Homo sapiens: one gene and its partners. The protein of the gene in region 3 purifies or fractionates together with the protein of the main gene of each other region. This does not show direct contact. Each region holds a gene or a part of one and is shown on either strand. Other genes may lie near its edges.

Region 1 (3,655 bases), on a different chromosome or scaffold from region 3:
CATTTAATGTCCAACAGGTGCACACCTCTCATTGGTAGCTAGCCACAGTTATTTAAGAATGAAATGAAAATATTTCTTCTTTCAATTTATTTTTTTTCTAAATGGCTATTAGCTGTTAGGCTATAAATACTTATTAAACAGTTAGAATATAACTGCTTAAGACTGAACTATTTTCTTTTGGCCGAGGAGCACTGCTAAAAATTTATTCAGATGCCAAAGCAATGGTAACAGATTTTAGGAATGTGTGCCACTGTGGCAGGAACACTAAGAGAAACCTCGAGAGCTAGCCTTTGGAACTGAATTGCACCAATTCCTCAGCTTATAGGCCTATAGCGGGTCACTACAACACTTTGCCTTAATTTCCTCAATGGCAAAATAGAAACAATATCACTTTGACTATGTGATAGAATTGTTCTAAGGACTACTGGAGATGGAAGATGAAATTCCTGTGAACTGTAAAGCATGACAGTTATTCAGCCTGAAGGGGAAGAAAATGGTTAGGGGTCCACAAATCACTAAGTGTATTTGAAAAACTGAATCTCACCTTTCTGAAATCTCCTCTAGTAACTCCATAAGTTTAGCAGCCAAACCAAGGCGTCGAAATTCTGGGGCAACAGACAGAGCTGTGACGTGCCCGTGCCATTCTTCCCTAGCTACTGAGCCTTCTGCTTTACCCATAACTGCCAACAACAACAAAAATCACATTCAGTAACTAGACATTGATTTACACATAAATATAGAATTACTGTTCAGTATGTTTTTATTACAAAGGAAACTAATAAAGAAGTTTTTAAGTACCACCTGAGGTCATCCAGCTAACAGTTAGTGCTTTTATTTGAAATTCACTTGTAAATGTAACACTATCTGTTACATTTAGAATAGTTCTAAAATCAGAATTAGAACAAAAAAGAACGATATACTTAAAACACAACTAATTTTGAAAAAAAAAAAACCAGAGTATGTATTTTTTCAAATATCTGCATTTCATATGGGTGTGGGTATATGTGGGTACATGTGGATGTACACATATAGTTCAGAGCTAAAGGTTCTGTTAGTAATGCTAATTCAATGAGGATGCTATGATGCCTGCATTATGTACTAAATAAACCATGTAGAAATTTAACAAAAGTATAGAATGAAAGATTTTTTTTTTTTTTTTGAGACAGAGTCTCACTGTGTCACCCAGGCTGGAGTGCAGTGGCATGATCTCAGCCCACTGCAAGTTCTGCCTCCGGGGTTCAAGTGATTCTCCCGCCTCAGCTTCCTGAGTAGCTGGGATTATAGGCACGCGATACCACGCCCAGCTAATTTTTTGTATTTTTAGTAGAGGCAGGCTTTCACCATTTGGCCAGGCCGATCTTGAACTCCTGACCTCAAAGGATCTGCCTGCCTTGGCCTTCCAAAGTGTTGGGATTACAGGCGTGAGCCACTGTACCTGGCCTTAGAATGAAAGATTTTTTTTTTTTTTAGAATGAAAGATTTAAGAAGACTAAGACCATGTCTGTCTGGTTCACTGCCGTTATCGCCTGGGCCTAGCACAGTGCCCAAAACAGAGATCAGTAAGTTCTTGAATTGTTGAAGAGGAAATAAAATTACAAGCATCATTATATTCCAATTCTGCAGTCTAAAGCAATCAGTTGAAATCTATATTAAAATCTTTACCTACTCCACAAAATACTAGTGGTATTATACTTACTATAACCCATTAATTCTCCACCAGGTGCCTCTGCAACAATGAAATACTCTGGCCAGTGGGCGAGGTATTGTAGGTAGAAAGGAATCCCATACTAGAGTCCTGTTAAGGAGTGTGAAAAGTAATGGACAGTAAAAAGTTCTTCATTAAGGGATATTGTAAAAAAAGTTTCCTTTAAAAAGTATACTGTTACTTTATCCCCAGCTCTGTATGAGTCCTATAATCATACATACCATTACATGAAATATTTAGGTTATCACTGATTTTTAACAAAATTGCCTGGACATATAGCCTCAAGTGTGGAATGGTGATAGCACTGTCTAATAGAAAGCAGAGAATCAGGACCCCAAAGTTCTACAGTCTACTTCCCTACTGACCATACCATATCTAAGTCTCTCCATTTATCACCTGATATTGTTTGTTTGCGGTCTGCCTCCTCTTAGTCTATGAATATCATGTTCCCTCTGTCCCTGGTGCCTGGTACACAGTAGATGCTTAATACACTGATGCTTACATAATTGCACTGAAAAATTAATGGGTAGTTCCTACTTTGACTTCAGCTATGAGACTGTGAAAATAACTTTACAACCTAAGTCCTTCCAGAGCCAACTTAATTACCCAGTTTTTCCTCTCCACTGATTCAAATCCTGCATTTCTAGTAATGCAGATAAAAGCTGACTTAAGGAATCAACTATGTTAACAGTAAATGCCTGAATAATTTGCTCATGACTTCACTCTTCAACCTTGGGATATCCTTACTGACATGTAATCATTCCTACATTTCTCTTCTTCTTTTTACTCTGTACTTTAATGGATGAAAATATATTTCTTGTTAGTATAAACTTTCTGATGCAATTTATCAGAGGACACCATCAATCACACATAAATATATTTTTTAAGTTCCTGGAAAACCTGTTCCGTGCGAAATTCTTCAAAATCTCCTCTGAAGGACCATCATTATTTTGAATACCCCTCAAATACAACCCTTAACATGGCAGGACAGCCAGTCTTCCTGCCAGCCAGCCACTGACATATACCACAACCATCTCTTCTGTGGCTAACAGAGGAGTCCCAGACACCCCTCCCTCCCATCGACCTCTAGGACCTAACAGGTTACTTTCAAATATAGGCTCACCTGGATTATGGGACTTTCACTGCAAATTTTAAATGTCACTGGAAGCACACCATATAAACGGATTTGCATCCTAAAATCCTTCCTTCCTATATAGTGAAACTTTTGTCATTCAAAATTCTTCAAAAATCTTAAAAGTGGTGATATCATTAGTCGTAATTTAAAAAATCCAGATGAACCTGCAGAGATTTTTTGCTTTTCCCATTCAGTTTTGTTTCTGATATGTAGTCCTGTTGCTGCCTGCACCTGTAAGTTAATTTTTACTGCTGTATAGTATTTCTTTATGTGAAGAGACACCTTAAATAGCCTGTATCCTGACAATGGACACCTGGGTCATTTCCTGTTTCTCAAAAAAATGTTTGAAATCCTTCTTCAGTACAGCTTAATTTACTTAACCATCTCCTGATTGTTGTGTGTGAATCTTATTCCAAATGCTTAGTAACTCTCCTGCAATAAATAATGTTTGTAATGGTATAACTCAGGGGTTAGCAAACTTTTTCTGTAAAAGGCCAAATAGTTAACATCCTAGGCTTTGTGGGCCATACAGTCCCTGCTGAACTACTCAAACTGCAAAAGCCACAGAAAAAAATATAAATTAATCAGCGTGGTGTCCCAATAACATTTTATTTACAAAAACAGGCAGTGGGCCAGATTTGGCCTATGGGCCTTATTTTGTCAACCACTGACAAACTGCCTCTATTTCTTCTTATTTTCAGCTTTCAGGAAATGGAATTACTATTTCCAAAGTGCCTTCTGGAAAGATAATAGCAATTTATATTGTCACTAGCAATTTATGAGAATGTTCCTCTCACCTCACCATCATCAGCACT
Region 2 (3,655 bases), on a different chromosome or scaffold from region 3:
TATATGTTTTTCTTATTGTGGGGCATTATTTGCTACTTATTTAGTGCTAATATTTGTAAAGAGGGGTTCTTGACATGTTTATTTTTAGAAGTTTCAACCTGATAGCTTCCTCATGCAGAGGTGGCTGTGACATAGTAAGAACCTTGACAATGTTTCCCAAACTTTTTTGACCACAGCTGACATTGTAACAATACATTTTATATTAAACCTGTTCACACTTCCACAATGCAACTCAGTACATATATGCATAAGTCTATATGTCTGTTGGTCTATTTATGTATGCCAGTGCTCCGTCATGGAAACAATTGTGGTAGTAAAAGATACACCCATTAGACATGCAAACAAAGCATGTCTGTGGTGAAAGACTAACATGAGATACTATATACACAACAATAAAACAAGAACCTGAGTATGGGAAAAGTGGATGATAAAAACTACCTTTTCCCCCCTTTGCATTAATCCTGTTTGACTCATTCCCATTGCCCACCTGGTTCCTGTGGTCAATGGCAAGGGTACACCTGCTATAACCTGGTTCCTTATTGACAAGGCTTTGCAACCTCAGCATTGTGGCATTTTGGGTGGGATAATTTTTTTGTTGAGGGGGCTTTCCTGTGCACTGCAGGATTTTAGCAGCATCCTTGGCCTCCACCTACTAGATGCCACTGGTATCTCCCCAGTAGTGACAACGAAAATGTCTCCAGATTTTGGCCATTGTACCCTGGGAGGCAAAATTGTGTCATTTGGGACCACAGCTTTTATTCTCTACAGCTTACGAGAACCTTGAAGCCCATATGGTAGGAAACACTTGCGACTTCTTAGAGGCAGAAGTGGTCAGAAACTGGGTGGAGGCAGAGAGTTGAATCTAGCTGTTGGGGACTAGATGGGGGGAGCAATGTGGTGTGGTAGAAGCAGCATAGCCATATCAACACTGGCCTGCATTTGAATCCTGTTTCTGCATTCGAGCTGTTCTACACTCCTTTAATATTTCTCACCCTTAAAATGGGAATAATAAATGCTTTGTCTGATTATGGTAAAAAATAAATGAGATAATACATGTAAAATAGCACAGTAAGTTCATTCATAGTCAGTCATACCATATCATTGAGCGTCTACTAAGCCAGATGCTAGTTGGTGGGGTAAAATGTAGAATGAGACTCTGTCACCCCTACCTTCATGGAACTTACATTCTGGAAGGGGGGATGGTAAATAAATGAAAATAATTGCACATTGTGAATGAGTGCACTGCAGGAAAGAAACAAGCTGAGATAGAAAAAAAAGGAAATACCCTCTTTAAGTAGGGTCAGGAAAGGTCTCTGGGGAGGTAGCCTTGAAGCTGAGACCGATAGAAAGAAAAGATGTCAGCCGAACAGAAGAGTATGACAGAGCTTAGCATGTTGAAAGAAGAGAGGGTGGAGGTGCATCAAAGTGAGATGGGCATGGGCCAGATCTTGAAAAGGAGCTTGGGTTTTATTCTCAGTGCAACAGGAAGCCATTGAGGAATGCTCAACAGGAGGAGAGTGACATGATTAAATTTTTACTTTGAGAAATCTGCTCTTGGGAAAATGGGTGGTTGCACTACAAGGACAAAAGTGGAGAGACCCATGAGGAGGCTGTTCACGGACCTAGCAAGAGGGTTGCTGGCCTAGATGAAGGCGGTGGCTGTGGAGATGGAGAGAAATTGGTCAATTTGAGTTGTATTTTGGAGGTGAAAATGATAGGACTTATGAATTGGGCTTGGATTGAGGGAAAGGAAGGAGTTATGAATACTTTGTACATTTTTGGCTTCTCTAATTGGGTAAATAATGCTGGCATTCACCAAGATAGTGAAGACTAGGGGTATGGATGAGGGAATGGGTTTGAAGGAAAAGGTCAAGAATTTCGTCTTGGACATGTTACTTTTGGGACATTTGTGAGATGTCCAAGTAGAAATGCCAATCAGTGGTGGGATATGAGAGAAAAGGTCTGAGTGGAGATGTACTACAGGGAGTCATCAGCAAATAGGTGGTTTTCACATTAATGGTAATTGAATTTGTATTCCCATTGAACTTCTATTTCCATACTTAGGGGAACAATAGCATCTTATACTGATAGGGGGCTTACTCTTTGCCAGGCTTTGTTGGAAGTGCTTTAGATGAACTCATTTAACTGTTTACTCAGTCCTCACCATGACACTATGATTACTGTGCTTGTTTTACCACGTGGGGGGAATCTGAGGCACAAAGATATTAAGTAACTTGTCCAAGGTCACCCCTAGAATGTAGAAGGGCCAGGATTTGACCCAGGCAATGTGTTTCCTAAGTTCATGCTCTTAACTAGTATGCTATATTTCATCTCCTCTAAGGGGACAGTACAGCAAAAGAAATGAAACCCTAGAGTCCAATTCTGAGAAACCCTAACATTTTGTGCTCAATAAATGTTAGTTTTCTTGTTTCTTCCTTCCCCAGGAAAAAGAAGGAAAAGAGGGTCATACTTAGAGATACAGGAACAACAAGTAGAAAGAGCATATTAGGGGTGGCATAAGGGCCAAGAAAAGCTAAGGAAGCATGAGGCACAGGGACACAGGCCATCTTGGTGTGCTTGCTTTCAAACAGACACATAGACCCAACTGAGCACCAGCTGTGAGAGTGTGTTTATGTTAATTCATAGAGGTTATGCCAATGGGAATTTGGGATTTTAAAGAATTTCTTTAATGTTTACAGCCATTTTTTTTTCTTTCTAAGATAGACTTCTGGCTAACTCTAAAGAATGTTTATAATCACCTAAACATATTTTATTATTAACAGATACAGTTAGAAGTTTTCTGAATATGTGATGCTCATTAGCATCCAAATAACAAATTTGATAAGTTTAGTTTATGTAAATATAAGCATATGTTATCTATTTGTGATTGATTTTTGGCCAATAATATGGCATCAATACTGAAAGCACATACAGTTTTATTTATGTACATATGGGTATTTGGATGTTGCTAATATTTGAACCGTGGCTGTTATGCATTGTAAATACTTATCCTATTAGGCTGTATTAATTTCTCTTAATGAGTGTGTTAGGTATATTAATGTTTCTTAAAGTTCATGCTAATGAGGCAAGTTGTTACTTAGTAACCCCGAGGGATTGGTTCAAGGACCTCCCTCCGATATCAAAATCTGCAGATTCTCAAGTCCCTAGTATAAAATGGCATAGTATTAGCCTATAACATACACACATACTCCTGGATACTTTAAATCATGCCTAGATTACTTAGAATACCTAATAGAATGTAAATGTTACTTATATATTTGTTACACTGTATTGTTTAGGGAATAATATCTGCATGTGTTCAGTACAGATGGATTTTTTTTCCGCCTACTATTTTCAATCTGAGGTTGGTTGAATCTGCAGATGTGGAACTGACAGATATGGAGGACTGACTAAATCTACATTGTCATAGAGACCATAAACCTGTGTACATAGTTCCAAATGGGGTAGCTTTAGGCTTTATTATTCATATGTTTAATCCTAAATTCCTGTTTTGCTAGTTCTTTTGCCATCAGCTTGTACTTCAGCCAAACCATTGAGACATTACTCTTCCAGGGGAAGAGGCTGCTAGTTTTATTTAGTTACTGTTAGAACTGTTTAGTTATAATGGTTACTAGTCATCAAAGCTAGTAAAAAT
Region 3 (3,655 bases):
GTTACAATACTGAGAAATTTCATGAAAGAGGTATTCAACAATTTGTAAGGTAATCAAATATGTTTTTGCTGCATAGGCCAATGCATTAATAGTAACTTGTTTTAAAATGCAGTCTTTTGGCCGGATATGATGGCTCACACTTAAAATCCCAGCATTTTGGGAGGCTGAGGCAGGCGGATCACCTGAGGTCAGGAGTTCGAGACCAGCCTTGCCAACATAGTGAAACCCCGTCTCTACTAAAACTACAAAAAGTATCCAGGTGTAGTGGCACACGCCTGTAGTCCCAGCTACTCAGGAGGCTGAGGCAGGAGAATCGCTTGAGCCTGGGGGACAGAGGTTGCAGGGAGCCGAGATTGCACCACTGCTCTCCCAGCCCGGGTAACAGAGTGAGACTCCATCTGAAAAAAAAAAAAAAAAAAGGCAGTCTTTTAGCCTTCATATTATTATGAAAGAGTATTCAAGAGTATGTATTAAGGTTGGTGCCATTTGCCATTAAAAGTAATGGCAAACCTGGTTTAACCCTTCTGATAGGTAGTTGTGGATGTTGGGGTTGAGAACAGAATAATCTTTGTCTGGAGTGACACCACACTCTAGAATTTCCACTTTGAAAAATACTCAGTTCTTTTTTTTTTTTTTTTTTTTTTTTTAATTTTTTTAGTATTTATTGATCATTCTTGGGTGTTTCTCAGAGAGGGGGATTTGGCAGGGTCATAGGACAATAGTGGAGGGAAGGTCAGCAGATAAACATGTGAACAAAGGTCTCTGGTTTTCCTAGGCAGAGGGCCCTGCCGCCTTCCGCAGTGTTTGTGTCCCTGGGTACTTGAGATTAGGGAGTGGTGATGACTCTTAGCGAGTGAAGAATACTCAGTTCTAAGCTGTGGTTCCTGGTAGAACAAACTTTATTTTTCTAGCTCAGCAGTGATCTGGAAGCTGAGGAATCTCAGCGCCTTTTAAAAGTTATTATGTGGTTTTGTTTTAAAAAGCTCCTGTTTTGGGAAAGTAGAATTTATGGGTATAACATATGTTCATTATTTGTACATAAAATAAAACCATTTAAAAAGTAAAAAATAATAATAATAATAATGGCAAAGACGTGATTACTTTTGCACCAATCTAAAAGATACGCCCTCTGTGCCTTGAGAATCATTGCGTCAGCACGGGCATCCCTGCCTCCTCTGAATTACTCACACTCACTCCATTTTGAAGGCATCAGGACATTTCATGAGGCCACTTCTTTGCCCTTACCTGTAAAAATCAAAAACTAAACTGACACTTTCCTCATGACATAGCTGTTTTTTTGTTTTTTTTTGTTTTTTTTTTGTTTTTTTTTTAGCATTTAGAAAATATTTATTAATAATATACATGAATTTAGATTATATAGTATAGAGGTCACCGGGCTTGTCACTTGAACTAACAGTAGTCTGTTTTTAGAATGCTTGAGTGTGATCATAAAAGACTACTTTCCAGGATGTCGGGGCTGGGGAGCTGGAGGGGCTGCTCCAGGAGGTGGGGGACCTGGAGCTGGTACTTACAGACTTGGGTGCTTATGAGTGTGGGTTATGGACCAGATGCCAGGGTTCAAATCCTAGCTCAGATACTTATTGATGGTATAACCCTGGGCCAATTACTCGACTCCTCTGTGCCTCAGTTTCCTCATCTGTAAAATGGGGAGTGGGCTGTTACCCACCTCATACAGTGGTTGTGAGGATTAACATATGTCAAGGACTTTAGGACAGGGCCAACGGACGTGGCGAGCACCCTGTGAGTCGCTGACTGTTACCCCTACTATTTAGTACAAATTAAAAGCAACAGACTTCACCCAGAAAGCTGAGAAGCCCGGGGCAGCTCATGGCAGCTTTTAAAGCAGAAAGGGGGACTCACTGGGGTCTGTAGAGATGAAAAAAAAAAGGGGCCTCCCAGTTCAGAGACTGGTGGGGAGGTTGGGGGTACCCTGCAGCAGCACCCATTCCCGTCCCACAGCAGCTGAGGAGTGGTGCGTCGGTGACAGAACCCGTCGCGGAAGAGCGAGGGTTAATGAGCCAGCCACTGATGGAGACCTGCCACAGCGTGGGGGCAGCCTACCTGGAGAGCCTGCCGCTGCAGGATGCCAGCCCGGCCGGGGGCCCCTCGTCCCCCAGGGACCTTCCTGAGCCCCGGGTGTCCACGGAGCACACCAATAACAAGATTGGTGAGTCAGCCTGTTTTGGGAGGTCCCCTGCAGCCCAGGGGCAGATGGGAGATGAATACGGGGCCCTGGGCCCTGGAAGGGACCTGGAGACCCTGGAGTTGAAAGGCCCAGGAAAGGAGAGGCATAGATTCTTCACCCCAATTGAAGTTTCTGTAAGTAGGGACAGCGAGGGTACTTACCTCGTAGGCCATTGTGCGGATTCATGAGCCAGTGTGCATGAGATGCCTGCTGTTACTCATAAAAAACGAACACCACCCCAGCCCCCAACACCGAGCACCCGAGGGGACAGGAGGAAGACGTGCCAGTGGTCACAGGACCTGCCACTTGTCTGGCGCATTCCGGGCACTGTGTAGGTGCCATCTCTTCATCTCTGATGGTCTCACCACCTTCTTTGGATGGTGTCTTTCTCCCCATTTTACAGTTGGGGAGACCGTGGCTCAGAGGGTGAAGTGATTTTCCCCATTGCATGGCTACTAAGTGGCACAGCTGGAACTCGTCCCGCATCTGCTGGGCCTTGAAGCCCGTGGTTTGTCCACGTTACCACCCACCCTCTGCAGAAGCAGGAGGACAGATGGGGCCCAGATGTTCAGAGCTTCCCAACGGCAGCTGCTGCCAGCCTGGACAGACATTGGCTTTGGCCTCCTGTGGGCCTCCCTGCCTCCTCTCTTGCTTCTCATCACCTTGGTACGGCATTTTCCCCAAAATGTATACCTGACCCTATTGCACTCCTGCCGAGAAGCCTCCAGCAGCTTCCCATTCCCTATGGGATGAATTCCAGCATTCTTATTCCAGCACTCAAGGCTGACAGCAAGTTGTAGCTCCCCGACCAGACTCACCTACCTTCTGACCCCACAGTCTGTCCCTCCCCCTCATGGCAGTCTCCCAAATTTACAGACCCCTCTGTCACTTCTGAGCTTCTCAATGGGAGCTACCCCCTCGCCTGAAATAGCCAACTCCACTGCCTTGAATCCAGTTAATTCTGGATATCCTGGGGACCCTGCTTATTTGCCCCTTCCTCCAGGAAGCCTTCTGTGCCCTCTCCACCATGCTATGCTCCCTAAGAACCCAGGCCTCCCCTACCCGGTGTCCTAGCACCCAGTGGTGTGACTGCGTGTTTATAGCCTTCCTCCACCTCCACCTGGCTTTGTGCTCCCTGTGGGCAGGGCCTTGGTGGACCCCACCTCTGTCGCTTCTGGAAGGGTAACTGGCACTGGGATAATACTGAAGAGTCATTTGTAATTGTCCTGTGCATTTCTATGGCAGACAGTGGTGGCCAGAACTCTTCAGGGCAGTCATCTTCTCTTTTTATTTTTTCAGCCTCCTGAGTAGCTGGGATTATGGGCGAGTGTCATCATGCCTGGCTAATTTTTTGTATTTTTAGTAGAGATGGGGTTTCACTCTGTTGGCCAGGCTGGTCTGGAACTCCTGGCCTCAAGGTGATCTGCCTGCCTTGGCCTCCCAAAGTAC

What was found.
Region 1: the proteins of TNFRSF8 (region 3) and NAA20 purify together in Homo sapiens (affinity purification with mass spectrometry; 2 studies listed by BioGRID and IntAct, with this or other methods). This does not show direct contact.
Region 2: the proteins of TNFRSF8 (region 3) and DPY19L1 purify together in Homo sapiens (affinity purification with mass spectrometry; 2 studies listed by BioGRID and IntAct, with this or other methods). This does not show direct contact.

The regions. Positions count from the first base shown.
Region 1 is NC_000020.11:20,023,809-20,027,463, reverse strand, and holds part of NAA20 (N-alpha-acetyltransferase 20), read right to left. Parts: intron 1,788-3,655; coding exon 1,697-1,787; intron 681-1,696; coding exon 545-680; intron 1-544. UniProt on the Homo sapiens protein: Catalytic subunit of the NatB complex which catalyzes acetylation of the N-terminal methionine residues of peptides beginning with Met-Asp, Met-Glu, Met-Asn and Met-Gln. Proteins with cell cycle functions are overrepresented in the pool of NatB substrates.
Region 2 is NC_000007.14:35,030,910-35,034,564, reverse strand, and holds part of DPY19L1 (protein C-mannosyl-transferase DPY19L1), read left to right. Parts: intron 1-3,655. UniProt on the Homo sapiens protein: C-mannosyltransferase that mediates the C-mannosylation tryptophan residues on target proteins.
Region 3 is NC_000001.11:12,136,249-12,139,903, forward strand, and holds part of TNFRSF8 (tumor necrosis factor receptor superfamily member 8 isoform 1 precursor), read left to right. Parts: intron 1-1,980; coding exon 1,981-2,188; intron 2,189-3,655. UniProt on the Homo sapiens protein: Receptor for TNFSF8/CD30L. May play a role in the regulation of cellular growth and transformation of activated lymphoblasts. Regulates gene expression through activation of NF-kappa-B.